Linked DNA regions of Homo sapiens. The protein of the gene in region 3 purifies or fractionates together with the protein of the main gene of each other region. This does not show direct contact. Each region holds a gene or a part of one and is shown on either strand. Other genes may lie near its edges. The genes, in order: NISCH, MAGED2, IRS4 and PPP5C.

The links.
Region 1: the proteins of IRS4 (region 3) and NISCH purify together in Homo sapiens (affinity purification with mass spectrometry; 2 studies listed by BioGRID and IntAct, with this or other methods). This does not show direct contact.
Region 2: the proteins of IRS4 (region 3) and MAGED2 purify together in Homo sapiens (affinity purification with mass spectrometry; 2 studies listed by BioGRID and IntAct, with this or other methods). This does not show direct contact.
Region 4: the proteins of IRS4 (region 3) and PPP5C purify together in Homo sapiens (affinity purification with mass spectrometry; 2 studies listed by BioGRID and IntAct, with this or other methods). This does not show direct contact.

What each region holds. Positions count from the first base shown.
Region 1 is NC_000003.12:52,458,584-52,465,612, reverse strand, and holds part of NISCH (nischarin), read right to left. Parts: intron 6,952-7,029; coding exon 6,769-6,951; intron 1-6,768. UniProt on the Homo sapiens protein: Acts either as the functional imidazoline-1 receptor (I1R) candidate or as a membrane-associated mediator of the I1R signaling.
Region 2 is NC_000023.11:54,810,745-54,816,544, reverse strand, and holds the end of MAGED2 (melanoma-associated antigen D2), read right to left. Parts: intron 5,725-5,800; coding exon 5,416-5,724; intron 5,296-5,415; coding exon 5,232-5,295; intron 4,972-5,231; coding exon 4,892-4,971; intron 4,389-4,891; coding exon 4,294-4,388; intron 3,601-4,293; coding exon 3,521-3,600; intron 3,428-3,520; coding exon 3,385-3,427; intron 3,058-3,384; coding exon 2,995-3,057; intron 2,176-2,994; exon of another isoform or gene 2,045-2,175; intron 1,885-2,044; coding exon 1,770-1,884; intron 1,298-1,769; coding exon 863-1,297; 3' UTR 855-862; intron 665-854; 3' UTR 530-664; downstream 1-529. UniProt on the Homo sapiens protein: Regulates the expression, localization to the plasma membrane and function of the sodium chloride cotransporters SLC12A1 and SLC12A3, two key components of salt reabsorption in the distal renal tubule.
Region 3 is NC_000023.11:108,726,535-108,733,563, reverse strand, and holds part of IRS4 (insulin receptor substrate 4), read left to right. Parts: coding exon 1-985; coding exon of another isoform or gene 986-993; exon of another isoform or gene 994-1,067; intron 1,068-1,666; coding exon of another isoform or gene 1,667-1,671; exon of another isoform or gene 1,672-7,029. UniProt on the Homo sapiens protein: Acts as an interface between multiple growth factor receptors possessing tyrosine kinase activity, such as insulin receptor, IGF1R and FGFR1, and a complex network of intracellular signaling molecules containing SH2 domains.
Region 4 is NC_000019.10:46,343,073-46,350,100, forward strand, and holds the start of PPP5C (serine/threonine-protein phosphatase 5), read left to right. Parts: upstream 1-4,014; 5' UTR 4,015-4,024; coding exon 4,025-4,145; intron 4,146-7,028. UniProt on the Homo sapiens protein: Serine/threonine-protein phosphatase that dephosphorylates a myriad of proteins involved in different signaling pathways including the kinases CSNK1E, ASK1/MAP3K5, PRKDC and RAF1, the nuclear receptors NR3C1, PPARG, ESR1 and ESR2, SMAD proteins and TAU/MAPT.

The DNA.
Region 1 (7,029 bases), on a different chromosome or scaffold from region 3:
GATGAGGCCTGTCACCACGCGTCCAGGAGGGTCAGGACACAGCAATCTGAAGAGCAGCATAGCAACAGGCCAGTGCCACAGTGTGCCCCTCACTCATACAGGCGGCAACCCCTGCGCTCCCACCTAAAGTGGGCTGGTAAACAAGTAGTGCTTTCTTTCCTTGTTATTAAAATCCACACTGCAGGCTGGGTGTGGTGGCTCACGCCTGTAAACCGAGCGCTTTGGGAGGCCGAGGTGGGTGGATCACTTGAGCCCAGGAGTTCGAGACCAGCCTGGGCAACATGGAGAAACCCCATCTCCACAAAAAGTACAAAAATTAGCCAAGTACGGTGGCATATGCCTGTAGTCCCAGCTACTTGGGGGGTTGAGGTGGGAGGAGTGCTTGAGCCTGGGAGGTTGAGGCTGCAGTGAGCCGAGATGGTGCCACTGCACTCCAGCCTAGGCAATAGAGCAAGACCCTGTCTCAAAAAACAAACAAAATCCATACAGGAATATATTGTTATAAATCTTTGTGACCTTGGATTGGGCAATGGTTTCTCATGTATGATACCAAAACACAAGTGACCAAAGAAATTGATAAATTGAACTTAATCAAAATCTAAATCTTTTGTGCTTCAATGAAGACCATCAAGAAAATGAAAAGATGGCCGGGCATGGTGGCTTACGCCTGTTATCCCATCAATTTGGGAGGCTGAGGCAGGTGGATCACCTAAGGTCAGGAGTTCGAGACCAGCCTGGCCAACATAGTAAAACCCTGTCTCTACTAAAAATAGAAAAATTAGCTGGGCAGGCCGGATGTGGTGGCTCAGGCTGTAATGCCGGCACTTTGGGAGGCTGAGACAGGTGTATCACCTAAGGTCAGGAGTTCAAGACCAGCCTGGCCAACATGGTAAAACCCCATCTCTACTAAAAATACAAAAATCAGCCAGACGTGGTTGCGTACGCCTGTAGTCCCAGCTACTTGGGAGGCCGAGGCACGAGAATCGCTTGAACCCCAGGGGTGGAGGTTGCAGTGAGTCGAGATCACGCCACTATACTCCAGCTTGGGCAACAGAGCAAGAATCTGTCTCAAAAAAAAAAAAAAAAAAAAAAAAAGACAACTCACAGAATGTGAAAAAGTATTTGCATGTTTCTAAAAGTCTAGTAGCCAGAATATATAAAGAACTCTTACAACTCAACAACAAAGATAATCTGTTTTTTTTGTTTTTTTTGTTTTTTTAGACAGTCTTACTCTGTCACCCAGGCTGGAGTGCAGTGGTGTGGTCTCACTCATTGCAATCTTCGCCTCTCAGATTTAAGCCATTCTTGTGCGTCAGCCTCCCGAGGAGCTGAGATTACAGGCACACACCACCATGCCCGGCTAATTTCTGTATTTTTAGTAGAGACAGGGTTTCTCCATGTTGGCCAGGCTGGTCTCGAACTCCAGGCCTCAAGTGATCCGCCCACCTCAGCCTTCCAAAGTGCTGGGATTACAGGCATGAGCCACCCGCGCCCGGCCCAATCTGATTTTTAAAAAGACAAAGAATTGGATACTTTTCTCCAAAGAAAATACACAAATGGCCAAATATCATATGAAAAGAGGCTCAGGCCAGGTGTGGTGGCTCACACCTGTAATCTCAGCACTTTGGGAGGCCAAGGTGGGCGAATCACTTGAGGCCAGAAGTTCGAGACCATCCTGGCCGACATGGTGAAACCCCGTCTCTAATGAAAAAAATACAAAAATTAGCCAGGCGTGGTGGTGCACGCCTGTAGTCCCAGCTACTCGGGAGGCTGAGGCACGAGAATCGCTTGAACCCAGGAGACAGAGGTTGCAGTGAGCCGGGATCACATGCCTGCACCCCAGCCTGTGCGACAGAGCGAGACTCTGTCTCAGAAAAAAAAAAAAAAAAAAAAAAAAAGAGGTTCAATAACATTAGTCATTAGGGAAATGTAAATTAAAACCACAATGAGATACCACTTCACACCCACCAGAACAACTAAGATTTAAAAAAAAATGGACAAGAAGTGTTAAGCAAGAATGTGGGGAAATTAGAACCTATACACTGCCGATGGAAACGTCAAATGGTGCAACAACTGTGGAGAACAATTTGTTAGTTTCTCAAAAAGTCAAACATAGTTACCATATAACTCAGGTTCCACTTTTGGCTATATATCCAACAAAAATGAAAACATAAGTTCACACAAAAATTAACATACAAATGCTCATAGCAGCATCATTTGCAATGGCCAAAAATGGAAACAAACCTAACATCCATCAACTGCTAATAAATAAACATAATGTGGCATATCCAAATAATACACTATTACTCCGTCATAAAAGGACCAATGGATTCATGCTACAATATGAACGGACCTTGAAAAGATAAGGCTAAATGAAAGAAGCCAGTCACAAAAGGCCACACACTGTATGATTCTATTTATATGAAATGTCCAGAACAGGCAAATCCATAAGGACAGAAAGTAGATTAGTGACTGCCAGGGGCTGGGGGACAGAGGGATGGGAAGCTCCTGCTAACAGGTACAGGTTCCTTTTTGGGCTGATGAAATGTTCTGGAATTAGATAGTGGTGATGGTCGCTCAACTTTGTGAATATACTAAAAACTACTGAATTGTACACATTAAAAAGTTAATTTTATGGTATGTAAATTATATCTCAATTTTTAAAAATCCACACCATGGCCAGGCGTGGTGGCTCATGCCTGTAATCCCAGCACTTTGGGAGGCTGAGGCAGGTGGATCACGAGGTCAAGCGTTTGAGACCAGCCTCACCAACATAGTGAAACCCCGTCTCTACTAAAAATACAAAAAATTAGCTGGGTGTGGTGGCGGGCCATCTGTAATCCCAGCTACTCGGGAGGCTGAGGCAGGAGAATCACTTGAACCTGGGAGGTGGAGGTTGCAGTGAGCCGAGATCGTACCACTGCACTCCAGCCTGGCCAGTAAGAACGAAACTCCGTCTCAAAAAATAAAAATAAAAAAATTCACACCATAGCCAAATAGGGTTCCCTGGGTCCACCCTATCCAATGTCAGCAACACAAGAGGCAGAACACATGTGGAACAATTTCAGAGAGGATACAGACAGTATAAAAGTTAAGAGAAACATTCCCCAGAGAGCTCCCAGCCTGGAGAAAAGGCTGACAAATCTTTAGGCCCCAAATGAAGATCTAATCCAGTGGTTTTCAAGTGGGGGGCAATTTTGCCCCCCAGTGGGACATTTGGCAATGTCTGGAGACATCTTTAGTTGCCATAGCTGGGTGGGGAAGTGCTACTGGCATCCAGTGGGTAGAAGCCAGGGTGCTGCTAAACAATGCATGGGACAGCTCCTTACAGAAACAAATTATCCAGTCCAAAATGTCAACAGTGCTATGGCTGATCAACTGTGGGTTTAATCCAACGATGGGTTCAATTGCTTTTTTAAATCCTAGGATTTATATAACCTAGGGACCTGTTTGATAATACTAATTCCAAATATGTCAAAACTTCTACAAGTAGCGGAGCCTGCCTCAAACCAGAACCAGATGTAGCCGGCCCCAGGCACATCTCAGGCAAACCAGTTTCAAAAGAGCAGTCCAGGCCTTTCCACCCTCAGAGCCAGGCACACGTGAGGCAGCCAGCGAGACCTCCTCTCCTCAAAGGCATAGGTCTCAAGCAAGGAATTAATACCGTCAAAGGACTGCATGTCAGGTTTCATCCCTAAATGGCTAACCAAAGCTTTCTTAAAATACAATATTTCTTTTTTTTTTTTTTTTGTGACGGAGTCTTGCTCTGTCGCCCAGGCTAGAGTGCAGTGACACGATCTTGGCTCACTGCAAGCTCTGCCTCCCGGGTTCACGCCATTCTCCTGCCTCAGCCTCCCGAGTAGCTAGGACTACAGGAGCCCACCACCATGCCTGGCTAATTTTTTGTATTTTTAGTAGAGACGGGGTTTCACCGTGTTAGCCAGGATGGTCTCGATCTCCTGACCTCGTGATCCACCCGCCTCGGCCTCCCAAAGTGCTGGGATTACAGGCGTGAGCCACTGCGCCCGGCCTTTAAAGTACATTATTTCTTAAAATACTAACCAGTAAAGTTTATCTGAAAGACTTGCATAAGGAATGCAAATTTTTTCTCACATAAGAAAGTATAAAAATATGTTTACGAAAGGGTATGTTGCTAACCCTATACTTGCTGGTATATGCTAAATAAAATCCAAAGCATATACACAGGTCCCATCTGTGAATGCTATCTACTTTTCCACCTGTCCCTGCCAAGCTCAGTGGCCCCAGGTTAGCACTCGCCACCAAATTTCTAGGCTCTTTAGTGATCCAAGAAAGGTTCAACTGTCTTACTCTGAAAAGAGTTTAAGGAAGTTGTTTCTTCTGTTTTTGTTTTTTTCTTTGAGACAGAGTCTCTGTGGCCCATGCTGAAGTGCAGTGGCATAACCTCGGCTCACTGCAACCTCCCCTTCCCAGGTTCAAGCGACTCTCATGCCTCTCTCCTGAGTAGCTGGGACTACAGGCATGAGTCACCACGCGCAGCTAATTTTTGTATTTTTAGTAGCGACAGGGTTTCGCTATGTTGGCCAGGCTGGTCTCGAACTCCTGGCCTCAAGTGATCTGCCTGTCTGGGCCTTCCCAAAGTGCTGGGATTACAGGCGTGAGCCACTGCACCTGGCCAAGAAAGTTGTATTTTAAATACAGCTGGGCTTTTAGGACCATAATCCACAGGTTACTTCAAGGTGAGCCTGAAAAGGGAGTGGATTCTTCCCTGTCTTCATCATATAAAAGGAAAACAAGTAAATATAAATTATCTGAAAATCTATCACTCAGAGAAAACTACTCTTAGCATTTTGGTATACGTAAACCTTCTAGAATTTTCCTAGACAAATATGTCCATATCAACTTGTTTTTTGTAAAAATGAGACCATAGTCAGCCAGGTGCAGTGGCTCACACCTACAGTCTAAGCACTTTGAGAGGCAGAGGTGGGAGGATGGCTTGAGTTCGAGTTTGAGGCCAACCTGAGCAATACTGCAAGACCCCATCTCTACAAAAAAATTTTTAAAATTAGCTGGGTGTGGTGGCATGCACCTGTAGTTCCAGCTACTTGGGAAGTTGAGGCAGGAAGATCCCTTGAGCCCAGGAGTTTGAGGTTGCAGTGACCCATGATCAGGCCACTGTCCTCCAGCCTGAGCAATGGAGTGAGACCCTGTCTCAAAAAAAAAAAAAAAAAAATAGTACAGCCATACAGTTGGATACTGCTTAAGAAAGTTGCATTTTTTTTGAGACAGTGTCTGCTGGGAAGACTGGTGTGCTGCTGGGATAATGATGGTGGAGCTGCAGATTTCTTTTTTGTTTTATTTTCCCAAAGAGCTGGGATCACAGGCATGAGCCACTGTGCTCAGCCTGGCTGTACCCTTTGATTTTTTTTTTTTTTTTTTTTTTTTTTGAGATGAAGTCTTACTCTCACTCTGTTGCCCAGGCTGGAGTGCAGTGACATGATCTCGACTTACTGCAACCTCTGCTTCTTGGGTTCAAGCGATTCTCCTGCCTCAGCCTCCCAAATAGCTGGGATTACAGGCATCTGCCACCATACCCAGCTAATTTTTGTATTCTTAGTAGAGACAGGGTTTCACCATGTTAGCCAGGATGGTCTTGAACTCCTGACCTCAAGTGATCTGCCCACCTCAGCCTCTCAAAGTGCTGGGATTACAGGCATGAGCCACTGCACCTGGCCTGATTTTTTTTTTTTAACCTCTTCTACTAGACTTTAGGGTTGTCCTTACTATTTTGTTACAATCCTGGAATGACTACCTTTGTTCATATATCCTTTTTGCGGCTGCCTGATTTTTCCTTAGAAGAAATTCTCATAAATAGAACTGCTATTTAATATTGTGGTTTTGGCCAGGTGCGGTGGCACACGCCTGTAATCCCAGCACTTTGGGAGGCTGAGGCAGGCAGATCACTTGAGGTCAGGAGTTCCAGACCAGTCTGGCCAACATGGTGAAACCCCATCTCTACTAAAAATACAAAAATTAGCTGGGTGTGGTGGTGCAAGTCTGTAGTCCCAGCTACTCGGGAGGCTGAGGCAGGAGAATTGCTTGAACCCAAGAGGCGGAGGTTGTAGTGAGCCGAGATCGCACCACTGCACTCCAGCCTAGGTGACAGAGCAAGACTCCGTCTCAAAAGCACAAATATTGTGGTTTCACACTGCCTAAGTGCCCTTCTTAAAGTCTGACAACGCATTCTGTCACCGGCAACCTATGAAAGTTGTTCCTCTTTCAAGGACGGAGTACAGAGCTGTTCTATGACACACTCTCCCATCACAGGAAGGTGTCCACCCTCAACCTTAGCACCCTGGCAGCGCGGACCCTGATGACACGCCCCAAGATGGTGATATTCCACCATCACAGACTAATCCCTTAATTAGTTTTGGGCTATGCACCAACAACTCAACAATAGTCTATCCCAGGTGTCAGCTATTTCTAATCCAGCCTCATCCATCTGGATGGAAACCTAGCTTAAACACCCACAGGCCATTTTTGCTAAACAAAATGCCTTGTGGTGGAGGAAAGCATCTCTGTGGCCACATTTAGTCTAATTTACGGCAAATCTGTCAACTAACATGCTTCTGGCCACAATGCATTCCTAACCAGGGTGACGTTCCTCCATCTTCTAACCTAGGGTCAAACCCCAGCCCACCTCAAAGCTGAGGTCTCCCCTGGTTTGCTGCCTCAAGTTTGGCAGTTGTGGGTTTGCAGGCACAGGTGAAAACCCGATGAGGAACTTACATAGAAGTGAAAATGCAAGAAGTGGGCCAGTACTCTGGGGGTCACGCCAGGGAAGGCAGCCAGGAGCTTCTGGAGGTAGACCTCCAGATCCTTCTCCCTCTTCTCCACCAAGCTTCTTGAGTTTTTCCCAATTATCTTTTTGGGCGGAAGCAGATTTTTATCAATCTTTCTCTCTGCAACGAGCTGTAAAAAAACATAAGCACATCAACCACAGACTAAGAGGCTCTGTGCCTATGTAAGACCAAGGCAAGAAGCTTGAGG
Region 2 (5,800 bases), about 54 Mb from region 3:
CAGGACTGGGCTGCAAAAGTCAACATTCAACTTCTCCCTCTCCGTTGACTCCTCCCTACTCAAGTCTCTCTCTCCTTCCCCAAGAAAATGCTCCCTTGTTCCTGTATCTCCATTTAGCTCTGTACCCCTCTCTCTCCTCATTCAAATTTCTCAAAAAGGGATTCTATATTTGATGTCCAGTCTCCTCTACTTACACTTTCTGCTCTAGACTTGCCGACCTCAAGCCTCTCCTTCAAAGTGTGTCCTCTGTAACTACAATCTCTTGAACTCCACCCCACTAAAATCCCACCACCCTGAAGGCTAGACGTGATGCCCAATCTATCCCAGAAAGGTGTGTTAATCTCGCTCCTGGGAATCCAACAATTAGACGTGAGGCCCAATCTATCCCAGAAAGGTGTGTTAATCTCGCTCCTGGGAATCCAACAATATCACCTCAAACTAAACACAGACTGAGGTGGAAACTTTCCCAACTCACTGATTTTTAAATGTGATACCAAAATGTGACAGCCCGCCAAAAAAAGCAATAAACTCAGAAATGGCAAATAGATTTAATGCAGAGTGTCAACTTCAATTGATTGATAGTGGCTGCCTAGAGTGCTGTGTTGAGTAGGTTTCTGAGGATGCACCCTGGCTTGAAGAGAAAGACTGGCAGGATTAACAATATCTGAAAACACAAGTAAGAGAAAATAAAAGGGTCAATTGACATCCAGCAAACAGAAAGGAATAAAATGCCAAAAGCAGTGTCTTGGCACACTCTCCACATCATTCTCCAACTTGGGCCTTCCTAGAATCATCCAGCTCCTCATCCCAGCCCCATAAGCCCCAGATGTCCCCACTGAAACCAAGGCAGATACCTAAAATCTCACTTGTAGGAGAAACCACAGGCACCAGAGCTGCCACTGGTGCTGGCACCAGCTCCACCAAGGCCAGCGAAGAGCCCAAATGTGAGAGTGGCGGTCAGGCTGGCACCAGCACTGAAGCCACCACTGGTGCTGGCACTGGCACTGGCACTGTTATTGGTACTGGTACTGGCACCAGTGCTGGCACTGCCACTCTCTTGGGCTTTGGCTTTAGCTTCTGCTCCCGCCTGGATCCGGGCTTTGGCCCAGGGTCCGATATCAGCTTCGTCCCAGTTGCAGGGCCCGGCAGCATTCTCCGAGCCGAGCCCAATGCCCATTCGAGCTCTAATCTCGGCCCTAGCCTTGGCTTCAGCTGCAGCCTCAGCTGCAGCCTTCAAATCCGCTTCCATCGCCTCTCGGTACTGAGCTGCCCATTCCTTGGGATCCTTCTTTTGTACCTGAAACAAAAATAACCATCAGAAGGAGCATAGAGGGATTAAGCCATAGTAATAATACAGTATTACTATGTAAATAACCATCAGAAGGAGCATAAGAGGATTAAGCATCTACCTTTATGCTAGGCACTATGCTACATGCTTAGTATAAAAAGATAATAGTAATAATACAGTATTACCAGTAATTATGCACCTAATATTCCATCCCTGCTCTGACACTTCCTAGCCCCATGACTTTGGACATGTCACCTACCAACCTTTCTGGGCCTCGGTTTTCTCATCTGTAACAGGGCAATGACATATCAGGTTGTAAGGCTTAAATGATTCAGATAAAGTGCCTGTTACAGTGTTTTGACAATTAACAGAAGCACCAAAACATTCAGATTTGAACTGCAGGCTGCTCTGCACACAGCCTGCCCCAGCCAGGGGCACCCCATGCTCTTGACTTGCCAAGCTCAAGGAGCTCTCCAATTACCTTGCAGGCAAACTTGAGGACTTTCATCTTGCTGGTCTCATAGTAAGAGCGCAGGCCCCAGAAGAACTCATATTCAGGGGGATTGCTATTGGGGACTCTGGCATAGTCCAGGTACCTTGGAAAGAGAGGTTCAAAGCCTTTATTTCTAAGACCATTCATGGCCTACCCATGCATAGACTGGACAGGCTCCAGATGGCAACATCATCCACTAATTACTACAGTCTTTCTTCCAATATTGAGCCCTGTCCCACTGGTCTTGCCCAGAAGCCACATAGAGGTGTTGGGGGACGTTTGTTCATAGGGAAGCCACAAGTTTGACGCCCTCATCACAATGACCCCAGATTCCTGTTGGGTGTGTTGTAAACAGAGGAGCCATTCTTTGGGCCCCCTGCTCTGAGCACACCCCACTGCAAGTGTCTTGGCCTCAGCCTGGCCAAGCCCAGAAAGGTCCACCACAGAAAATGACCAGAAAGACTACAGAGGAAGAACAGCCAATAGCAGCATGCTTCACACATGCTGAATTCCTGACCCTTTGTGTGTGTTTCTGTGTGCACATGCGTGTGGCTGTGTGAGTGTTTGCATGTCCTCCAAGGACCAAGGATAGGTGAGCTTTGGCCAGAAATTCAAGAGGACTGGGCTCCAGGCCCATACCAGCTGTGGGCCATGCTCAGATCTCCCTTCTCGGAGCCCCAGGTCCCTCAACTGTAAAACGGGGATGGGATGACAGCTGCAGGGTAGTTATGAAAATGAAATGAGATGTACAAGTCAACTCCCCAGCATGGTACCTGGTTGCCTGAAGCTACCATTCTATGTCATTTCTTTACGGAAATTAATTTCTATGAAGCTCTAGTTAGCAGAATAAAAAGAACTAAGGCTTTGGAGCCAAGTTCTAAACATAACTCTTCTACTTGCTACCTGTGTAACCCTGACCAAATGACTTCACCTCTCTAAACCTCAGTTTCTGCATACGTACAATGATGGTAATGATAATCCCTCCCTTGCAGAACTGGTCTCAAGACAAATGTTGAGGTATATGTAACAGATCAGGAAACATGTGCTGCTCCTGTTTCCCATCACCGCCCAAGGAATAATCCCACCTGCATACATGCAAATATGCAAATACATACACACATAGACACATGCATCCATGCACCACGGCTTTATCACTCAGTTCTGAAATAGGCCAAATGCATGGGACACATGAACACCAGACAGAGATACTTACTTCTGCTTCACAAACTCATCAGTGATGAGCTTCTTCACGTCCCCAAAGAGTGAATGATGTATCCTGAGAGAAGAAAAAGAAAAATAAATAAACAAATAAATTCACTCAAGGCTATGGCACTTCCCAGATGTGGGCAGAGGCATTTCCAAGATGGAAAAGAGGTTTCCAGCACAAGAGGGAAGCTCCATAGAAGCCCAAGAGACACTGAGAGAGGGAGCAGAGAGTTCAGGACCATTCACCCATCATCCACCCAGGTCAGAACCCTGGGCCCTCTACCCAGTCCAGCACCCCACCCGCTCCACCAGACCACCAGACTGATGCAATCCTAGGACCGTCCTCTCTTGCCAAAGGACAACACGGACAGCAAGCGCTGAGAGAGCCCAATCATACCCAGGGCGCAGCCCCAACTTGCGCAGCACCTCCCAGATGACAGCTGCGAGGGGAGGCAAGAGGAGACAGGGACAGAAATTGAACACATGGAATCTAGACCACAGCCACCCATTCAGCTGCAAGCCCAGCCACTCACCCTCACTGGACCGATTTCCATTCATGAAGATGATGCTAAGAAGCACCATGAGCAGACCCAGCTTGGGTGAGTCCTTAGTCCTAGAGAAATAACAGGACAGAGAGGTTTATGTTCAGCAGCCATCTGCAACAGACACACCAGCCAACTCACTAGGCTAGCCTCTCCCAGATTCCTCAGATACAGAATTCTACCCAGTCTCTGCTTCCAGCTCTATGCCACCCTTGGCAAGGCACTTAGACTTGCAAGCCTCAGTCTACTCTTCAGTAAAATAGAAAAAATCATATTTTCCCTTCCCTGGGTTTCCAAGAAGATGGAAGAATGGCTGCCAACCTGGTACAACACAAGCACTCAGTCAATGTGAGTCCCTTCTTTCTGTCCCAGAACCTTCAGCCCCACTGACACTCCTGCGCTTCATGCATCCTGATCCACCCACACCAGGAAGCCCTCCTTGAGAACCACTCTGCCAAAGCCAGGCCAGGCACCCAGTAGGAAGAGGCAAGCAACGACAGGCCTGCTTTCCTGGGAAGCTTCTACAGAGACAGCAAACCTGACAGCAGGAATGTCCCACTCCAGGCTCCTACACCCTCCAGTCAATCATAATCAGGTGCCACCACTGTAAGCAGGGCTCCAACTATGCATAGGAACTGGGACGGGGCTTTTGAGACCCTGTCTTTCCTGACTCTCTAAGAGGATGGGGGAAGTAGGACAAAGGAGGAGTAGCAGCACATGGCCAAAGCAGAAGCCCCCCACACCTCAGCCCTTTCCCAGCTTACGTTCCCAGTATGCCTGCATCAGTGGGCTCTAAGGTGCTGAGAAGAATGTACAAGTGGTCATTCTTATCAATTTCCTTCAATTGAATCCCAAATACCTGTGGATGGGGAGAACAGCTTGTGAGATGACAAAATTCAGCTTCCGGGGCATGCTGCAGCTCCCTATGTACCTAGGAGTTTCGCATGTGTGAGAAATCAGTGAGATAATACGCACAAAGTACATAGCTAAGTGCCTGGCACCCGGTAAACACGCTGCAAATGTACTATTGTCATCATCATCTTTGTGGTGAGTGGGACTCTAGGGAGACAGAGAATGGGGAATGAAAGGGAGAGGTGAAATCTCAAATACATGGCAGGAGCTGCCATGGACGGACAGAAGCCAGGATTAAGTTGGGTGTCTTGGGTCCTAGCTGCACTTTTACCATTGACTTGCTGTGTGACCCATCGCTAATCTACACCCCTCCCTAGGCCACTGTCTGCCCCTCAGCATAGCGATGGAGCTGGATTAGCAGGTCTCTTTGGTTCCCGAGAAGGGACTTGTACATTTTTGTTCAATTCAAGGCTTCCCCACTGTGCCCATCCCCCAGGGCTGCCCCTTCACCTTCTCCAAGGAATAGCCTGCTCGTTCAATGATTTCGGGGTACACATCAGTGTATTCTTTGATGATGTCCTTCAGCATGTCTGCAAGGGGAGAGTGTTGTGAGCACCTGACTGAAGAGATGCCAGGTGGCCCTGATGCCCAAGCTATAGACTCTTTGCCAACCACACCAAGGGTGGCATAACCCGGTTCTGTGCTTATCAACAGAGATGCTAGCACTGCCAAATCAGAACTTTGGGAGGACAGAGACATAAGCATAAGAGCAGGGGATATCCCCAGCACAATGGTGTAAGGGCAATGGAGGGCAGAGCTCAGGGCAGAGGGAGGATTGGTAGGACTTTACCCGAGCGCTTGATGGGAATCTTCGTCTGGTCTTTAGCCAAAAGGTACTTCACCAAATCATTTGCCTGGCAGAGTAGAAAAAGATGGAAAGACCAAAACAAGTTTGCAGAAAACTTGAGACGATGGCAAAGAAAAGGACAGCCAAGGCAGTAGAAAAGGCAGAATAAAAACGACAGAGTTCTTACCCTCCCTTGCAAAAGGGCCACATCCCGAGGTGGTGGTGCTTCAGGCTCTTGGGATGACTGGAGCTTGGCAGCTCTACGGCGAGCCTTGCCCCTACGGGCTTTAGGTGATCTCAGGGAGAGCAAGGCTCTCCGGGCCCAAGCAGCCAACCGAGTCCTTGATGCCCTGCGGGCCCAAAAGGCTATGGGACCCCTTGAAGCCCTGCGGGCCATTGAGGCCATTAGGGCCTTTGAGACCCTTCGGCCACCTGTGGTTCCAGAAGCCTGACTCTGATCACTGCTGCCATCCTCTTCCCCATCCAGATGCTTCACCTGCATCAACAGAGAGGAAGCTCAACGTCACCAGATGAAGCAAGTGGTCCTTTTCCTCTCCCTATCTCTTCCAGGA
Region 3 (7,029 bases):
AAAAGAGAGAGCAATACACCAGCTCCCTCTACTCAAGGACTACCAGATTCGTGGGGCATAATTGCTGAACCCAGACAGTCAGCCTTTTCTAATTATGTGAATGTTGAGTTTGGAGTGCCATTTCCAAATCCAGCAAACGACCTCTCAGATCTTTTAAGAGCTATACCACGTGCCAACCCCTTATCTCTGGACAGTGCTAGGTGGCCACTTCCTCCCCTTCCCCTCAGTGCTACAGGTAGCAATGCTATTGAGGAAGAGGGTGACTACATTGAAGTAATTTTCAACTCAGCAATGACACCAGCCATGGCTCTTGCTGACAGTGCCATTCGCTATGATGCTGAAACAGGTCGAATCTATGTGGTCGACCCATTTTCTGAGTGCTGTATGGATATTTCTCTCTCCCCCAGCCGATGTTCTGAACCACCACCTGTAGCTAGGCTGCTGCAGGAAGAAGAGCAGGAGAGAAGACGCCCACAAAGCCGTTCTCAAAGTTTCTTTGCAGCAGCCAGAGCCGCTGTCTCTGCTTTTCCAACAGACAGCCTCGAGAGAGACCTTTCCCCATCCTCAGCCCCGGCTGTCGCTTCGGCTGCAGAGCCGACTTTAGCCCTCAGCCAAGTTGTAGCTGCGGCCTCCGCGCTCGCCGCAGCCCCGGGCATCGGCGCAGCAGCCGCAGCTGCTGGATTTGACTCCGCCTCTGCCCGCTGGTTTCAACCTGTTGCTAATGCTGCTGATGCCGAAGCAGTAAGGGGAGCCCAAGACGTTGCCGGTGGCTCGAACCCTGGAGCCCACAACCCATCTGCAAACCTTGCCAGAGGTGATAACCAGGCTGGCGGGGCTGCCGCTGCAGCTGCCGCTCCGGAACCACCACCTCGCAGTCGCCGGGTGCCAAGACCCCCGGAGAGAGAAGATTCTGACAACGACGACGACACTCACGTGAGAATGGATTTTGCCAGACGTGATAATCAGTTCGACTCTCCCAAAAGAGGTCGGTAATTTTAGAATTAATTTCCCTAAAGTGAATGGTCATTGTCTAATGATTCGATGCGCTACAGTCTACAGTGTTAGGGATACTATTTCATTAACTGGTGCTATTCGACATGGAGTATAGAATTCAGTTTTAATTATTCACAAATGCCTTTTTGATCTTTGCAAAAATTTGTTTTTATCTAATCAATTTCTTTATCTGGACAGAACTGATTATCATTTAAACACTGGTTCTACTTTTTTAGGAGTAGTTAAAACGCAGACATAAAAAGCATAAGGATACTTTTAAACATCCTTCCCCATCATTTAATGATAATGTAAAGCAGGATATCGTAAATTGGGTTCCACCAACTAATTTTCAAATCAACAATTAAAAGCTGCTTTTCTGCAAATGCCCATATTTAAGTGTAGGAATTTAATAAGAGCACAGACTATTAAGCAGTAATAATCAACTATTTATGTTTAGGGAGGATAATTTTCTCCTCTGAAAGTTACTTTTTAAAGAGCAGTCGTTGTTGTGCTAGTTTGCTGTGATTTACCAAGAAAGTTAAATCTCAATTGTTAACGTGAATGTCTGGGGGGAACAAAACATAAATAATCCAAAACAGGAGGTGATTAAAAGAAGACAGTATTTGGCTCTGGAATGTGTTTGTGTGTTGATTTTCTTTTTGTTTTTACACAGGATAAATTCCAGAAACCTTGAGTGTTCCTTTTCTCTGTCACTAGTAATGACAGGCAAGTCACATTTGCTGTGCCTCATTTTCTTCTTTTAACCCCCCACCCTTCTAAAAGAGGGTGTGGTGACAACTTGAGAATGGATATGAATATTATTTCAAAGGTTTAAAAAGCAGTTAAAACATTTAATTCATATATCTTATGGGAAATCAAGGAAAGCAAGATAAGGCTGGAGGAAGACCTGACTCCAGGGGCAGCTTACCCTGGAATGGTGGAAGTTTTTAAAGGGCTACTTTTCCAAAGGAAGAAGTAAGGAAGAGTAGGAGCTGTCAGACTTGGAAACAAGACTTAGAGTAATTCTACTGTGTACAACATTGTGGAATGTTGTCATCAGTGTGTCTTGAAACATTTTCAAGAGATGATTGCAGAGGATGATGTCTCCATAGTCTCAACTACCTTGCCTCTTAAGTAGAATATGCTTCTTTCCCAGTGAAGGGAAGGGATGGACCCCAGCAGTTTTCATTCCAGTAGTCAGTTTAGTGAAGATTTTTGCTTTGCTTGCTTTGTGGAATGCTTTTGTGATTGGATCTCTGCCCACTGTGCTTGATCAGGCAGAACAAGTCGGGCACTGATCACAACAGTCACCTAACAAGCTCCCTATTTAATGCAGGTGTAGCCCCCCCACATCCCCTTTTTCTCCCTGCTATAGAAAACTTGCCATACACAAACTCACATTTGCAGCGTGGACACATTAAAGAGTGATCATTAAAACAACAAAAGGATGCTTTGGCTTGCCAAAGGATTCAATTCAGACCTCTTTTAAACTGTGAGTTCCCTCCCCAACACACACACATACACACACACACAAACACACATGATCACCACTGCTACCATAATCATACGTTTAAAATATATAATTTCATTTCCAAGTCTTTAATCCATAATAAGATTTTCAAGAGTAGATCTACTTTATTCTGTAGAATATACCTGAAAATTGATCTCAATCTATTGTTTGAGTCTAACTATTGAAGACACCATTTATAATTTTGATGTAGATGATACACAGTTGCCTGTGTCCCTGTAGTACTTTCAAAAGGACCAGTTTTCATAGAGGTTTATTTTAAGAAGTTTAAGATTTAAATAGTGAAATCTTACTGTTCCTTGAATAAATTCTGACTTCCCAAGGAATACCTAGACACAATGATCATTATTTTAGCATAAATTCCTGATTTATGACTTTGTAGCTATTTTGGAGATTTAACATTCTGTAAATGCATTGTTTATTGAGGAAATTCCTAGCTTTATTGAGTGACTTTAGCAAGGAAGCTCTATCTCACAGGGAGGCAGGCGCTTAGGTTGAAATAAGAGAATCAACGTGGAAGCACTTTGGAATGTTAAAGCACTTTACAAATGTAAGATATTTTTAGTGTCATTGGATTAATACTGAAGTGAAATTTCGGCAGTTTAAACTGATTCAGTTTCTTGCAAAATAATTGATCTTGAGGGTGATTCCTGCACATAATTTGCTGAAATACATGAAAGGAATGGTGGGGATTGCCGGCGGGGGGGTGCGGGGGTGGGGGTGGTGGTGGTGGTGGTGGTGGTGTTGATGGTGGTGAAACAACCCATTGTAGGAAATGACTTTGGTTAGCATTTTAATGTAAATTGTATGGTAGAATGTTGTCTGTGAAGTGTTAAGAACAAGCTGAATGATTCTGATCCTTTTTTATTGTAAAGCTGTAGAATAATTTTCACTCATTTCTGATCTCTATTTTCCTATCTAACATTAAAACAAAAACAATCACGTTAGGAAACAAAAACATAATGCTTTGACAGAGGAACAAATACCATCTTTATTAGAAGTTATGTATTTCAAAAAGTCATTTTAATTGATGGCAGGTGCTTAGAACAGTGCCTGGCATATAGTAAGTACTATACATGAATTATTTTACAGTTATTGCCATTGTTATTGTTGCTACTGTTATTATTACATTTAGAAAAACAAACCTAAATTAAGATTCTCCATCTGAAAATCTCACTTTTCAGTTAGTCTTTACTTGCATTTAAAATACTTTACATTATTGTTCAGTTGGCATGTTTATAGATTACCATTTAAGTGAAGTGAGATTATAAATCTGTGAGACAGCTGTTCTCATGTAACACAAAATTAATATGTAATTCCATTTACCTACAGTCACATTGCGTATAAGTAAGTACAGTAAAGGAATTTACTCAAGTCGATTAGAAAGAAACACCCAGAAGTATAACCTTAGACATGACTGTATTAATAAATGAAATAATTTTTAATCATTTATTAAAGATGAAGTCTTCACATTTTAAACACATAGGTTATAGGCATTAGCATTTAGGAGAAGAATGTTGTTTCTTATGCAGTTTAGTTTGACTGTTAACCTATGTATGACTATTTGCTTCTTTTTCTACCTTACCTGATGTACAATTCATAGTTCAAAATGACTTGAGGTGAACATTTTCCTGGTTTTTTTATTCAAGAGATGGGAGGATATAAAAGGGCAGCTCTAGGAGGGGTGAGAGAATCGGTCAGCCAAATTAGTAATGTTATGATGGCACTTGGTATTAAAAAGCAAAAAAAAAAAACTTTAGTAATTAATTTTTCAGTGTTAGACACTGTTATCACCATGAAGGAATCATGCTTCTTTTGAGTGTACTACTGCCAAACTTGTTGCTATCAGTTATAGGCACTAAGAGCACATTGTTTTTATTCCATTGAAGTTAATTATTATAAAAATTTCCATATAGCAGAAATTTCCCAGCTACCATTGACGGATCATTTATTTTAGGTAATATTCAACACCTCAAAATTGGACAGTGTTTGGACTAATGAGGTATTTGTCCTCTAACAATTAAAGAGGACTTCACTTAATTAAAGTTAACTAAAGTTGTTCACAATCATTATTCATTTGCATTCATTCTATTTTAAGAGTGATGTTTTCAGGGTAAAAATTTCAACTACTAGCAAAATACTTACCTTAAACAAGGACCAGAACTTTAATTAAGCACACCAGAATGTCACACATGTATAAAAATTCGAACGAGATCTCTTACTTTCTTTTTCTCTCCCTAATCCCCTGTTTTGGGAACAAACTTAGGCTTCTCAGAGTGACAAAAAAATAATTCCTGTGGGAATAGATGTGGCTGACGAGTGTAGGGAGAACTAAGGAATAGTTTATGTGATTTAAAAGGGTCTATTGTTAAATTGTCAAATTGTTGATTGAGGAAATGCTTTCCAGTTGCAGATTGCCTTATAGTTTGCAAAGCACATTCACATTCATTATTTTACTGATGGATGGTAAGTACTGGAAATGAAGCCCATGTTGAGAATTTTCCCAAGATCAAAAAGGTAAGTGGCAGAGCTGAAAATCTAACTCATACATCTGATTTCAAGTCCAGCACTCCACCCAACACATGACACCTCCCTTTAATCAGGTGTTTAGTCTGTTATTTTCCCACTGGTGACAGATTATTACATGGTTAATGATTAGGAAAAAATTACAAGTTTGCTTTCACTTGATAGTAGCAAATTTTGTTGTAAGTAATTCATTCAGAGCATTATAACTGTGGACTATCTTCCAGGACCTGGGTAATTTTATTACATTGAACTGTTTGCCCTGGCTCTTAGAATAAAAGAATTTGACTTGTGCTGGAATTGAATGTTTTAAATCTGATATAGGGAGGAGTTGGTTAATCTTCACTGCCCAAACACAAATAGTGTATGTATCTATTTAGATCCCACAGAAACATTGAAAGGAAAGAAAGTGAATTGAGGGTGCATTCAGTAAATTTCCATTAATGGTCATTTCTTTAACTGAAGTTAGATTTCTTTGATTTTCCTAATAATTCATTGACATTTGGGAGTTATAGCAAAAAGTCTTTTCATTTAATTTCTTCCTTCATTATAAAATTTGGTATTCTGATCTAAATCAGCACAGTAGGCAAAACAGGATAAAGTAAGACAGGTGGAAGAATAAGCAGTGTAGCAATAGACGTTCTTCATTTGTTTAAAAAGTGAACTTGCTTTTGGCAGTCAGGCAAGTAGATTTTAGAAGCCTTGAAAATCAAACTCTCTCCTTGGGACATAGAAATCCCTGTTTACAATTAAGTTCATTTTGATTTAGCACCTTTTTTAAGGCTTTAAGAGTATATAAAAATAGCCCAGACGTTTTATTGGCAGTATTGGAAAATAGCTTTTGTAAAATGCTTAATTAAAACTTTCAGTATATTTTCTCTAAGAGGTGCTGCCAGACTCTTAGATAGTGAGGATCATTTACTAGAAAACGTTGCTTGGTCTTGAATGAGAAATGAGAAATTTAAGACACTGCTTTTTATAATAATGAAATAAATACATCACAAAGCACTGAGTTTTTGCCACAATCATTGGATTGCTGATTTTAAAGCTATTGATAAAATTGCCAAGAAAAATGTGCTTGCCATATGAACTTAAAATATATTCTCCAGCAATTCTGCATTGATTATTGGTAATGTAGCTACAGGTCTCACATTTCCACCTTATTTTGGAAAAATAGACTCAACACTTGAGAAATAGGAATGTTTAAAGATGTTTCTAGTGTAAATTATATACTGTTTTAGATATGCATTTTTAGAGGGTACCTTTCAACTTCTGGCTGAATAATTAATTTCTTTTAGAATGGAAAACATGTACTTAAATACTTATTAAGTGAAATGAGAAAGTTACTGCTATTTTCTCTTAGCTTCCTGATACCTCTTTCTTATTGGTTAGGGTTGCATTGGTTGTGTTCTGTGAGTCTTACCCTCATGTGCCCTTTGCCAAACTTGTGCCCTTGAATTCAGGCAAACATGCCCTTTCCTGGTCTCTCTCTGGCTGAAAAGGTGAGGGCCACTGTGGGAGTCCTGCAGGGCCCATAGAGGGCTTCGCCAGATGTTGATCACTCCCAGTACACAGCCTTCTTGCACTTAGCTTGCAGAGGCAACCTTCCTTGTAGGGATCCTTGTTGTACAGATCCAAGGCTGTGCTGCCTGCCCTACTGTCACTTGGCACAGAAGCAGCTGGGCCGGTGTTTAAAGCTATTTTCATGGTTGGATTGATCACAATATGTTTGATGCCAGCCACACCTTCTGGATTTACCGAATATCTAATTCCCTATATATTGTAGTCACTTTAGCTAGTTTTGACAATTTATATAATTTTTCTCCTATGATTAATAATTTCCTACTTATAGACTTGAAACTTAGAATAACAGTGAAGTTTCCATCTCACAATTAATCTTGAAAATTGCTCACATGTGTATCCATGGGGCCCTTGAAAGTCTGACCAGCAAATGTGATTTTTTACTCTTGCTTTTTAAAGTTTTA
Region 4 (7,028 bases), on a different chromosome or scaffold from region 3:
GAGAGAAGCCAGGACCCCTCAGCTGTCTGCCACCATCTATGTGCCTCCCTTACCCCCCAGCTTTCTTTCTACAGATGGTGCTACTCTTGGTCTCCCACAGGAAAAGGCCTCCCCCCTTCTTAGCCCCATTTACCCCGTTTGTGGAAGGCACTGCTCGCTCTGTTTTGTCAGAGAGTGGCCTATCCAGATTGGTGCTATGGGGGGGTCTGACCCCTCCCTCCTCCCTCTGGAGGTGATGTGGGCCCTCAATGGAGGGAATTGTGCTGGGCTAGGGAAAGGGGAGGGACTAGACTGGCCACACTGGCTCTGAAACTCACCAATCTCTATACACCATAAAGACCTCACCTTGGTAGGCACCAGAGCTCTGCGTGTTGACTCATCTTTTGGATCTCCTCTGGGAGTGTGGGTGCACTGGTGGCTGAGTGTCTTTTTTTTTTTCCTTCCTTCCTTCCTTCCTTCCTTCCTTCCTTCCTTCCTTCCTTCCGCTCTCTCTCTTTCTTTTCTTTTTTTTTTTTTCTTGGAGTCTCACTCTGTTGCCCAGGCTGGAGTGCAGTGGCACAATCTCTGCTCACTGCAACCTCCACTACCCAGGTTCAAGCGATTCTCCTGCCTCCGTCTCCCAAGTAGCTGGGATTTCAGGCATGTGCCACCACACCCAGCTAATTTTTGTGTTTTTAATAGAGATGGGGTTTCACCACATTGGTCAGGCTGGTCTCGAACTCCTGAACTCAGGTAATCTGCCCGCCTCGGCCTCCCAAAGTGCTGGGATTGCAGGCATGAGCCACCATGCCAGGCCCTTTCTTTCTTTCGAGACAGGGTCTCACTATCTCACCCAAGCTGGAGTGCAGTGGTGTGATCACGGCTCACTGCAGCCTCCTGGGCTCAAGCAATCCTCCCATCTCACCCTTCCCGGTAGCTGGGACTACAGGTGCATGACACGAGGCCCAGCTAATTATTTTCATTTTTTTGTAGAGACAGAGCCTTACCATGTTGCCCAGGCTGGTCTCAAACTCCTGGGTTTAAGCGATCCTCCTGCCTCAGCCTCCCAAAGTTCTAGGATTATAGGCTTGAGCCACTGCACCAGCCCCATGTTACTTTCTGATTCTGTGTATCTGTATGTGTGTGTGTGTGTGCATGCACACGAGTGTGTGCACAGTGTCATTCTGTGTATGTGTATGGGTCTTTGTCACATTCTGTGAACCTGTGTTGCAGCAGGTGGGTGGGGTTGTGATTCCTTCTACAAGTGCATATTAGTATCTGGGTGAAGTGATTCTGCCTTATGTGTGTTTCTGGTTATTTTGGGTTTCTGTGTTTCTGAGTGTGGAAGGTGCTGTGATTTTTTTTTTTTTTTTTTGCCTATGTATGTCTGTATGATGTGATTCTGTGTACATGTGTGGGACTGCTTGATGCTATAATTCTGGGTACCAATGTGTGTGTGACATGATTGCCCATAGTTAAGTGAGCATGTGTGTGCAAGAGTGTGTGTCCATGGACTCATGTGCAGGTGGGTGTGTCTGTTGTCATGTACGTCACTCTCATAACCCCCCATACAGGGTTGCACATAGGAATCTCTTCAAGGGAAGAAAAACACTCTCAAGCCTTTGCACTTCCTATTCTTCTGCCTGAAATGCCTCTCTCCCTTCCCCTCTCCCCTCACTTGGTTACCTCCTACTCATATTTCACATCTTGGTTTAGGTAACAGCTACTCCAGGAAGCCTTCCCTGCCTGCTCCAATTGGGTAAAGTGCCCCTAAAAGCTCCCCTTGGAAGCCCCCTCCCATCACAGCACTAGGCACTCTGCCCAACTCTGAATATTTGTTTTGTTTTATTTGTTTTTTGAGACAGAGTCTCACTCTGTAGCCCAGGCTGTCGTGCAGTGGCGCGATCTCGGCTCACTGCAGCCTCCGCCTCCTAGGTTCAAGCAATTCTCCTGCCTCAACCTCCCTAATAACTGGGACTATAGGTGCGCACCATCATGCCCAGCTAAATTTTTGTATTTCTGGTAGTGACGGGGTTTTGCCATGTTGGCCAGGCTGGTCTTGAACTTCTGACCTCAAGTGATCTGCCTGCTTTGGCCTCCCAAAGTGCTTCGATTACAGGCATGAGCTACCATACCCAGCCCACTTTGAGTATTTGTGATGGAGTGAATATAAAAGTACTACTCTGTGTCAGGCTCCCTGACAAATGCTGTACTCATGTTGTCGAACTCTCCTCTAATCCTGTATGATGGGGATAATTATTATCCCCACTTTACAGAGGTTGAAACTGAGGCTTAGAAGAGGGTGATCACTTGCCCAAGGTCACAGTGTCAGGAAGGATTCCGCTGGACTCGAAACCAGAATTCAAATCCACTATGGCAGCTCCTTTTCCCCCAACCCCAAAACAAACAATACGAACAAACAAAAGAAAAATTTACTAACCCACCAAGATGGGCTCTGGCACCTACAGAGGCAGTAGAGTGGCAATGAAGGACATAGGAATTAGATGGGATTCCTGATCCTGGCTCTGTCACCTTCTTATGTTGTTGTGACCTTCGTCAAACACCTCTGCAAGTCTGTGTCTTTATCTGTAAAATGGAGATGATACTAATATCTGCCCTTTAGGGTGATTGTTGGTTGTGCTGGGGGCCAGTAGGAGAGATGGGGTTGGACTAACAAGAGGTTTGGGAGTGGGATAGATAGGTTTAGGAGTGTGCTTCCAGGAGGGGATCCAGAGCCTTACAGGACTTAGTGCTACATGAGGGCTTAGAAAGGACAGACTGGAAGCGTGTACGGCGGGTGGGGATTGGCAAAGGGGTGGAATCTGGATATTAGACTATTCAGCCTGAGGTTAAGACTATTCAGGGTCTCCTAATCAGGAGTTTGGGTTTTCTCCTAAGGGTGCTGGGGCCATGGAAGCCTGGGAGCGAGAGTGTGCCATGGTTTTATCATGTCTTAGAAAGATCCCTCGGCCGGGCACGGTGGCTCACGCCTGTAATCCCAGCACTTTGGGAGGCCGAGGCGGGCGGATAGCTTGAGGTCGGCAGTTCGAGGCCAGCCTGGCCAACGTGGTGAAACCCGTTTCTACTAAAATACAAAAATTAGCCGGGCATGGTGGCGGGCGCCTGTAATCCCAGCTACTTGGGAGGCTGAGGCAGAAGAATCGCTTAAACCGGGAGGCGGAGGTTGCAGTGAGCCTAGATGGCGCCACTGCACTCCAGCCTGGGCGACAGAGGGAGACTCCCTCTCAAAAAAAAAAAAAAAAAAAAAAAAATGTGAAGGGTAAACTGGAGGGAGGCAGAGTGCATGCAATCAATGCTGTGATCTCAGACAAGAGAATCTGTAAAAACACAAACAGGAGAGTTTATTTGAAGATTCAGGATTTGGGAAGCTGAACACAGGAAGAAAGGAGATGGTGCAACACACTTCTAAGCCTTGCTCAGGACTTGAAATCCAGAGTGCCTTCAGTTAAAAACTCAAACACTGACCCTCAAGGTTGGACCCTTTTTGGCTTGAGAAACCACTAATTTTTCAGAGATGGGTAACTGAGACCCTAGAGAGGAAGGGAAGATTTGTTCAAGGTCACACAGGTAGTCGACAATAGGGCTCGACGCCCGGGTCCGGCTCCGCGTAGGGCATGGCGCTGCCTTGCAAAACAGCCACACCCGCCAGCGACATTCACAACCCACCCCCCAACCCTAGAGGACAGCGGGGAAATCCCACTTTCAGAACCGAGAAACTTTTTACAGCCTTGGAACACGGTAACTTTGGGAGGAGAGGCCACACCAGGTCTGTTTCCCCGCGCGCCCCTTCTCTCATTCCCTATTGGCTCTCTCTACCAGGGGTACCGTCTGGGGAACCTCTGGTCACCTTGTCCTCCGCGCGCTCTGTGGCGAAAGGGACCTGCGCAGGCGCGTGAAGGGCGCCTTCAGGGCCCGCGCTTTACGACACTTGTGCGGCAGCGGCGGCGGCCACCCGGCGCTCCTTCGCGACGGTTCGGCCGGGTGCCGCTGGCGGCCGTTGCCAGGGTAGGGGTCGCTTTGCGGCATGGCGATGGCGGAGGGCGAGAGGACTGAGTGTGCTGAGCCCCCCCGGGACGAACCCCCGGCTGATGGAGCTCTGAAGCGGGCAGAGGAGCTCAAGACTCAGGCCAATGACTACTTCAAAGGTGCGCCCGCCTGGCAGGGAGGGTGGACAGTGGCCCAGGCTGAGGGGTGCCGGGCCCGCGCGGAACCATAGCAACGCGGAGCTGCAGCCTGGGCGCGGGGCAGACACTACCAAGTGACCGGGCGTGGGGAGGCCCAGGATGGCGCTGCCAAGGAGCGACATAGGGGGCTTCGGAGAGTGATACCTAGGAGTGGCGTGCGGAGCGGGTGCTACTCAGTGGAGAGACTGAGGAGGGCGCCACCAATTGTGGGGCGAGAGGGGGACTGGAATGAGGGCGCTACCAAACGTGAGGCCTGTAGAGGGCGCTACCAGGCAGTGACATGTGGTGGGGGAGTGATTGATGGCGCTACCAAATGGGGAGTCCTGGGGTGGGTGCCGCCAAGTGGGGGGTAGAGGGGGCACAGCCCCAATAGAGAAGGCAATCGTGGGGGTGGGGAATGGATCATTAGATGGGGGGAACAAGGAAGTAGGAGATTTGGGCTGACCCGAGGAAAAGGAATGTGATGGTGGGGGCCTTGGGAGTAAGGGTGGGGATCCTTAAGAATAGTATCACTTAGAATATTGAGAGTCAAGTGTGGGGCACCCATTCATTCATTAATTCAACAAATATTTATTGAGTACCTGTTATGTGCCAAGGACTGTGCTTGACTTTGGGGATATAGCAGTGAATGAGACAGATGTGGCCCTGTCCTTAGCTTGTAATTTTGCAGGTGAACCAGACATGAAAAAAAAAAAAACAAAAAAAAACCATGTAAATAAGTAAAATACTTAAATTGTGATGAGTGCTTTGAAAGCAAACCAGCAGTGTGATGAAGTAGAGAATAAGGGTTGGAGGCTACTTTAGATAGGGTAGTGGGGGAAGGCCTTACTGAGCAGGAGGCGTTTAAGCTGAAACTCACAGAGGGAGAACTGGAGAGGAGTGTTCCAGGGAGGTAAAGCAGCCTGTGCAAAGGCCCTGGGATGGGGAATGAAAGGGTACTGGCATGGCTGGGGCTTTGGCTACTTAGGGGGAGACCAATAACAAGATGAGATTAGGACAGAGGCCAGATCATGCAGGGTCTCCGTGAGTCATTACAAAGACCAGTTTGGAATTTTTTTTTTTTTTTTTTTTTTGAGACGGGAGTTTTGCTCTTTTTGCCCAGGCTAGAGTGCAATGGCGCAATCTCGGCTCACTGCAACCTCCGCCTCCCTGGTTCAAGCGATTCTCCTGCCTCAGCCTCCCGAGTAGCTGGGATTATAGACGCACACCACCATGCCCAGATAATTTTTGTACTTTTAGTAGAGATGGGGTTTCGCCATGTTGGCCAGGCTGGTGTCGAACCTCTGACCGCAGGTGATCCGCCCATCTCGGCCTCTCAAAGTGCTGGGATTACAGGCATGAGCCACCACGCCCAGCCCTACAAGAAGACACATTAAGTAAATGGGCCAGTCTGGACTGGAGAAGAATTTGGGTGTGATCAAACTATGGTTGGGAATGGATGAGATCATCTAGTAAGAGGGTCTAGAGGGGGGACTTAGGACAGAACCCAAATGGAAGAGGGTGAGGCTAAGGAGGAGCACTTAGTGAGGTGGAAAGGAAGCCAGGAAAGGTGTCGGGAAGGCTGAGAGAAGGGAGCGCTTCTAGAACAAGGAGCTGGTGCCTTTAGTCCGATGCTGCCAAGGCAAGCACTGGCCATTGGCTTTGGCTCCATGGATGCTGGTAGTGATGTTGACAGGAGCAGTTATTGGGGAGTGATGGGGGTGATGCAGCCAGGAGGTGCTGAAGAGTGAATGGGAGGGGAGGAAGTGGAGACAGCAAATGTTAAGTGTTAGGAGTATTGGTTCTGAAGGGGAGTGGAGAAATGGGGGAGGGTGGTAAGACGAGAACGTGCACAGGAGTTCGAGACCAACCTGGCCAACATGGTGAAACGACGTCTCTGCTGAAAAAATTAGTTGGGTGTGGTGGCACACACCTGTAGTCCCAGCTACTTGGGAGGCTGAGGCAGGAGAATTGCTTGATCCTTGGAGGCAGAGGCTGCAGTGAGCCAAGATCACACCACTGCATTCCAGCCTGGGCAACAGACTCCGTCTCAAGAAAAAAAAAAAGAGAGAAGATGCAGTGTCAGGGAAAGATGGATTTTTTGTAAGGATGGAAGAGAGTAGAGTCCAATAGAGATGGAGAATTGATTCTGCACAGGAGAGGGGGGACTTGCAGCAGCAAAACCCTGGAGAAGGCGGAGGTGGGAAGGGTCTGGAGCCCTGGAAGAGACTTGGCCTCCAACGGGAGCAGAAGCAAAGTGTGGAGAAGCTCGATCCGGTGGGAGCCGTGAGAGGGAGGTAGGACCAGTGAGAGATGAGGCCAGAGGTAGAACCTTGGAAGTCAGATTGGGGAATATGGGTGTCATCCTGGGGGTGGTCGATGCCATGGGAAGTTTCAAGAGCGGGGTGCTGTGGTTCAGTTAGTGTTCAGAAAAGATCCCTGGCTGCCATGCAGAGACTGGACTCCAGGGTAAGACAGGAAGGAGTCTAGATTAGTGGACAGGTGAGGAGGGGTGGTGATCGCCAGCCAGGCTGGAGGGACAGAAATAGATTCAAGAAGTGTTTCAGGGAGGAAGTGAGAGTGGCTGCCTGGAGAGAGGGTGGACGGTACTCCAGGCAGGGAAAAAAAAAACAAAAACAGGTGGCAAAGGCCCAAAGGTGAGCAGAGCCAGGCATGGAGGCCATAAGTGGGGCCACAGCGTAGGAGGCTGGAGGAGGTTATGATGAGTTTGCAGGGAGTAGATTGCGCAGGGCTGTAGGAAGGAGCCAGGGCTTTCTGGGGTGGGGTGGCGGTGGGGGGTGGGGCTCTGGGGAGCCCTGGGAGGTTCTGAGTAGGGAAAGGACAGGGTCAGGTTTGTGTTTTAGG